Linked DNA regions of Homo sapiens. The protein of the gene in region 1 interacts with the protein of each later gene in a biochemical or structural test. Each region holds a gene or a part of one and is shown in the gene's direction. Other genes may lie near its edges.

What was found. Proteins that work in one complex are often made in the same cells at the same time.
Region 2: the proteins of LDB3 (region 1) and LPAR1 interact in a test that uses a peptide from one of them, tested with the Homo sapiens proteins (one large-scale study listed by IntAct).

The regions. Positions count from the first base shown.
Region 1 is NC_000010.11:86,682,011-86,685,510, forward strand, and holds part of LDB3 (LIM domain-binding protein 3), read left to right. Parts: intron 1-3,500. UniProt on the Homo sapiens protein: May function as an adapter in striated muscle to couple protein kinase C-mediated signaling via its LIM domains to the cytoskeleton.
Region 2 is NC_000009.12:110,877,971-110,881,470, reverse strand, and holds part of LPAR1 (lysophosphatidic acid receptor 1), read left to right. Parts: intron 1-3,500.

The DNA.
Region 1 (3,500 bases):
TCGGATTTTGCAGAGGAGGAAACTGAGGCTCAGAGAAGGTTAAGTCACAGTCCGTTTGTCCAGCTACCATGTGGCCGAGCCAGTCCTGAATTCAGGAGATTCTGACTTCCAACACTTTTTCACTAGGCCACTCCCCAGAACAGGACAGCACAGCCTGCAGCCTTCAAGAGCTATGCACAGGTCCCCACCCCTCTGGGAGCTCGGAGGCAGGAGCAGGGGAGCGTTCGAGAGGTGGAAAAGCGAGTTATCTGGGACTAGGAATAGTCTGGGAAGCTGCCTGGAGGAGGGAGCCCTTGAATTGTATATGGAGAGACTCTTTGGCAGTGGCGTGCAGGGAGCGGGTTTGCAGGAGTGACCTTGGCCAGGGTGGGGTGGCGAGGAAGCAGGACCCCAAGGAGAAAGGGGCTGTGCAGGAGAACAGCAGCCTCACCCCTAAGGTCTAGCTGGCGGGACTCTGGGAGCACAGCAGGTAAAAGGACATGGGACTGGGGCACTGTAGGGGGGAGGCAAAGGAACGGAGTCCCCACACTGGGCCTGTGTTAGCTCTGAGCCCTTCACGCTTGTTCTCTCACCCTAACTTCTACTCCCGCCCTGTGCAATTGGCATAGCCCTCTCCAGGCAGGGCAGGCTGAGTCAAGGCAGTAGAGCCTAGTGGTTCAGGGTTCCTCCTCCGAATCATGGAGGAATCACACTGTCCATGTCTCAGGGTTATTGGGAGGATAAAGGGCCCAACACTTGTAAAGCTCTGAGCTTTGTCTGTCACCCACTCACTGCATGACACCTGGTATCATCACTGCCTGGAGCCACCCAGAAGAGTCACAGTAGGAATCCGGTCAGTCTGGCCCAAGCCCATGCCCTTGCCTTTGCCCTTGCAGCAGAAGGCACCTGTGCCCCATCAGGTCACTGCTCCCTGTGGCCCTCAGCTTCCCCACCCCCCCAGCTCTTTCTAGAATCCTCAGTGAAGCTGATTTCTGGCACCACATGGCTTGCTTCCCTTACCCAAGGTGACAGAGCCATATATGCCCCCAGGGTTCCCCAGCAAAGGACTTTTGCCAGAAAACTCAGGGAATAGTAGAACAGAGATGACCTCCTTGTCCCGCATTTGTTGGGCTGGTAGGTCTTCCCGGTCCTTTTCAGGAACTGGCCTCAGGCAGAGAGGTCAGCCTCTGGTGGCCTGGGACTCCCAGGAGACCCACCTGCAATGATGATAATGTCTCCCCATACTGACCATGCACTCTGGCTATGGACCAGCTAACAGTCCACATGCCTTATCTCTCAGCAACACTCTCTAAAACAACTCTCTCTGCAACTCCAGAGGTGGGCATGATTTTCCCCATTTTATAGCTGGAAAATAGACGCTCAGAGAGAGCAAGTAATTTGCCCAAGGTCACACAGCTAGTAAGTGGCAGACAGAACTGGCATGCAGGTCTGCCTGACTCCACTTTGCATTGAGACAGGGACTTGCTGCCTGCTCAGGGAAGTGAGGGGCCAGGCCCACCTCTGCTTCCCATAGTGCCTAAGGTACTCTGCTGTCGGTGCAGGGGCTGCCCAGACCCTGATGAATGTGTAAATTATTTCTTGGTGCTCAGAGCAGCAGAGTCTGACGTTTCCTCCAAGGGATGGTGGGCTAGGGGAGGATGTGCAGTGGGTGCTTCATCCAAAGTAAAAGCTGATGCTGCTGTCTCAGGCAATGCCGGCAGGAAGGGCTGGAGCCTCTGACCTGGGCTGGCCTAGGGCAACCTCTGCTGGGCTGAGGCCACCACCTATGCTAAGTGGGTCAGCAACAGGGTCAGCAAGGGCTAATCCCCGTGCTTATCCATGGCACACTTCTCCCATGCTGAGCACCTTAGACTCATGACCCGTTCAGTCTGCACAACCCACCTGCGGGGTAGGCACTACCATCTCAAGAATTAGAATTAGGAAACAGGCTGGGACGGGTGGGTAATTTGCCCGGAGTCACAGTGCTAGGAAGAGGCAGGGTCACAACTTGAACTCTGTCCTGTCTGGCTCCAAAAAGAAGCCCCTTCCGCTACTCTCTCCTCTGGGCAACTTGCAGTGCAATTCTTTGGCACCTCGTATCCTCTTGGAAGGAGGAGAGAGAAACAGATGTGGTGCAAGGGCAGACGGGCATAGGCATCCCAGCAGCCCCCTTCTTCTCCTCCCTTCTGAGGCTGGCACTGAAGGGCAGTGCCCCTCAGGCCACTCAGTGCAAGGGCCCCTGGGCAGGTCTTACATCTTTGGCTCATCTTCCCCAAGACCCAGGCACTGGCTCCTCTCAGATGTGTCTGCTGCCACCATCCCGGCCCCAGGTCCTGGGTGGGAGAAGCTGAGCAGGAGGCAGGAATAAATGTCAAAGAAGGAGCAGGCTGCCAAGGGAGGGCAGAGGCAGCCCCCACCCCGCCAGGCCAACACTGCCCTCTGCAGGGGGCCCTGGGCTGGTCAGGGCAAGAGATGACCCTGCAGCTGTCAGCACTGGCCAAAAATGGAGAAGGAATGGAGCTCCGTGCTGGCCCTTTCCTAATATAGCTCCACTTGCAGCTATTTTGAGCCTGGGAGGATAGAGGGAATTTTATCAGTTCTGAGGCAGTGGCGGGCCTGGGGCAGAGCAGGGCCACTGTGCTGCTCCCTGGGACCGGGGACCACTGACTTGAGCCTGGCTTCCCAGGGTTTGGCTGCAAATGACCAGGGCCAGGCTGGCCGGGGCCCAAGCTCCCCCAGCTACAGCCCACACTGGGCAGATTCAAGAAGGTGGCAGAGTTTGGGGACAGAGCCCCCCACCTTCCACACTGTCTCCCTCACAGGCCCCCGACAGGGCTGCTGGCCACAGGGTCTGCCACTGCAGGGAATTTGCATTTAAAGAAACACAGGACAGACACTGCTTTCCCTACAGAGACCATGCTCTGGGAGGCTCACTCTCAGGTCAGAGTGAGAGGAAGGGGCCTCTCACTGTGCTGCCTCGGCTGTTGAGCTCACACTTCTCCCTGCGCCTGCTCGCTCCTCCATCCTGCCTCATTGCTGGCCCAAGGGGCCTTTAGGAGTGGCCCCTGGTGACTGTGCACCCCACTCCCCTATACCCCAAGAGGAGCAGCCAGAGCTGCCTGCGTCTCTTCTGGGAGGGAGAGGAGGTCAGGTTTGGGGGGGCATAGGAAACCCCGCGCACACCCTGCCTCCTTACCACTGCAATGCCTGCTCAGGACAGAATTCCAGAGCTGCCCCCACAAAACAGACTCTTAGTCCGGAGCTGCTGACAGGCAGGGAGGCCCCTGGGCCTCAGCCTTTTCCATAGCAGCCACAGCTGGTCCTGTCTCCACCCCTAGCTTCCACTCTGGGGTCTATAGCCAGGTTTGTATGTGGGGGATTCATGTATGCGGTACGAGTGCCCCTGAAGATAGACAAGAAAACCCTTCTTCTGGCAAAGCAGAGGGCACTGGGGACCCCTCAAGAGGGAAACATTGCTGTGTCAGTCTCTGAACCAAACCGAGGGTCCCAGTAGCTGTGAT
Region 2 (3,500 bases), on another chromosome or scaffold:
TTCTCTTGGGCACAGGAAAGTAGCATTGTGGTGATCAGGAGAGTCTAATGAAGCTAAAACTGTCACCCAGGAATGTTAAAAAGAGAACATAATGAGTATTCTGCTCTGCTTTAGAGCTCTGTATGGTGTTATTATCCTTCTCTAAAAGATAAATGTTGCTCTCAAGAGTGAGTAATGAAAATACTAGAGCACATCATACAATAAATGAAATCATGAAACTTTAAATGTATGCAACATGTGCTGTGACCAGGAAGGAATGGCAGTGTTGAACACCAAACTAGATGGAGTAAAATTGGTATCAGGGTGGAAATAATATAGAACAATAATACTGTGGAGATACCTCAGGTAAATTATATAGTTTCAATAGTCAGGAAAAAAGATTTTTTAATTAATCTGGGTTATTCTTTTAGAAAAAGCGTTAATCTCAAAAAGCCATCCACATACACCCCCATTATAATGAACCCTTAGCTGCAAGACTGGGGAAGAATAAGCTTTGCATCTGTGGCCACTTTTTCTGACATAGGCTCTGTTAAGATACATAGCATTGAAGGATTTCCTAGCTAACTATGTAGTATGTGTGTACCTTAATAGCAGAAATCACAACGTAACTACAGAGATGAACTAAAATTTGATTAGATTCTGGGATACCACGCTGCCTGACCTGAGGGAATAAACAATTTAGGGAAAACAGAAAAAGCAACTTAGGCACTCATTTATTTTCTCCCTTGATTCCCACCGCAGGTCTCTGAGATGGGACTGTTTCTGGGATCCTCATTTGAAAAACAAGAAGAGTGAGGCCACCTTGGGCACAGTGCTGTTGTAGAATTGATTTACCTTGACTTGTTTTGGATCTATGGGATGTCTGGTTCTTTTGTAAAAACACAACTTTGCCAGCCAGACTAGAAACGCTTTCTGTGTTTTTCATCAAAAATCTTGGACACTGTCTCTAGAGGTCTTCTCTGGCAAGGACTGTTTTCCTCTTTAACTTTGGTTCTTGCATTCCATATGTAAGCAAAGTTCAACTAGTTAGGAAAAAGTCATTCTAGAAAAAAAGACTGTAATTGTGAGACCAGATGGTAAGCATTATTCAGCTGATGAGGTTGGATAGATTTGAGGGAAGGTGTGGTAATATGATCTCGATCTGCAGCTGTGACCTGTTGTTCCAAAACAGCCTCATTCCTCCCTGCCTTTTGCGTCTGCATTCCAGCACCTCTCCCTCCATCTTTGTGGGCATTGGGGTTCTCACAGATTGCTTTGACAGATGCATCAGGGAGGAATAAAGCTTGTTCAAGGAAGAACAACCCACGGATCTGTTTTGAATATCCTCCACCCCATGTTACTTGTAATATTGGCAAATCAGGGGACAATATAACCACTTTTGTTCAGCGTGCTGTGAGACAGTTTCCCATGACACAAATTGCCATGAGCCTATTTAGATGTAATTAAGGCATTTCCATTAGATGTCTTGCAGGTACCTCAAACTAAACACATACTGAACCCAGCTCATCAGCTGTCTTCTTCTCCTTACCTCCCTTACAAAACACCAGTAAACATTTTCTCCTGTGTTTCCTCCTTCAACCAAAGTGAAAATTTAGAAGTCATTCTAGACTTCTCTGTCTCATCCATCTCATGGAGTCCGTCTCCTAAATACTTCTCCAGTCCTTCTATATCTCTTCCCAGTGCTGCTGTCCTGATTCTGGCTTTCATTATCTCTCTTCTGGAATTTGGAAATAGTTTTGCCTTTACTTTATTTTCTTCTTCCACTCTGTCACCAATGTTGTGTCTTAAATGAAAATCTGACCAGTAAGGCCAATGAGATTACAATCCCATAGTGGGAGGTGTGGGTGAAGGTCTTTATTTTTTAAAGAAGCTCTGCAGACTATTGTAATGTGTGGCTAGGGTTGAGAATGTATGCTGGACTGGACAAATTTCAAATAGCCAGATATACAAGACCTTTGTGACCTTGGACATCTTATCTTCTGCTACTTCTGTTTCTGATGTTACAATAAATAACCACACTTCTTCATCCTTTTTTTTTTTTTTTTTTTTTTTTGAGATGGAGTCTTGCTCTGTCACTCAGGCTGGAGTGTGGTGGTGTGAGCTTGGCTCACTGCAACCTCTGCCTCCTGGGTTCAAGTGATTCTCCTGCCTCAGCCTCCCAAGTAGCTGGGACCACAGGTGTGCGCCACCACGCCTGGCTAATTTTTGTATTTTTAGTAGAGATGCGGTTTCACCGTTGTTGGCCAGGCTGGTCTCAAACTCCTGACCTCAGGTGATCCACCCACCTCGGCCTCCCAAAGTGCTAGGATTACAGGCGTGAGCTCCCGCACCGGGCCCTTCCTCTTACTTTCATACTGTTGCATACCATTCATCGGTGTTGTGCCTGGGTTTGTGGGATTCTTCTATCAGAAATGTGCTGGAAATATACAAACTACTCAAAGCACTATGACTACTGAGTACTATATTTCATTCCCCATCTTGGTAGGTGATGGCATTGACCCATGAGAACCTCCAAAATGATTTGCTTCCCTATGTTGTCTCTCTATTCCCTCTTGTTATCTTCTTCATACCCAACTGCAAGTCCTAGGAATCTCTTTATAATCAGGATAGTATTGTCTCAGAGCCTTTTGACATGCCAGCTCTTTCTTGTCCAAAACACATTTTCACATTCTGCCCTTGGAGAATCTATCCTAGGGCTCTGCAACGCCAGCGTGCCACTCACGTAAGTCATGGTGGTCAGGTAGATGCACAGTTTATAGAGGGCTTTTACAAGTTGTATCTCAGTTTGATCCTCACTGTGCCATGTGGAGGAGGCAGGGAGCTATTATTTCTCCACTTCAGAGGTGCTGAGATGGAGGTGTTTTAACTCTTATCAACCTTTCAGGTGTACGCTGAACTCTCTGTAGATTACATGTTGATGGGGTCCACAATGCACATCTCAAGTCCTGTAACCTGATTGAATTATGGTTAGCTCCTTACTATTAAAGGGGTTTAGGTGTGGTTTATTATTGTTTTCAGAAGCTCAAGGGGAAATCCTTAATTTGAGCAAAATTTATTTCAGAATATCCATTCATTGTGGGTTAGGAACCTCATCCCTTACAATTTTCCAGCCCCCATTTTCGTCTTCTGTAGTGCATCCTCATCTTTTGGTCAGTTTGATCCTTGAGGCCTCTGTGAAATAGAAAGGAGGGGGAGGGGGGCGCAGAATTTCCATATGATTGGTTTTAGATGTTGATTTCGGAGGCCTGTACTGTGAGTCACTGAAATTATTGGATTGAGTCTTGAAGATCCAAACACAGAGTGTTGGGACTGTGTGGTTGGGCTTAATCCTAGTACAAAAACCAGTTCCTTTCAGTGAAGAAGATAAAGGAGAGGAATCCAGGTTCCTCAATGAAGCATCCATACATAGAAGCTCCTGTGTCAGGCTGTGGTGTTTCCCACTTCCTGCCTTCAGTCTAGCAGGGTTCCTTGCATTTCTTGGTCTAAAAGTAAGGCTTATG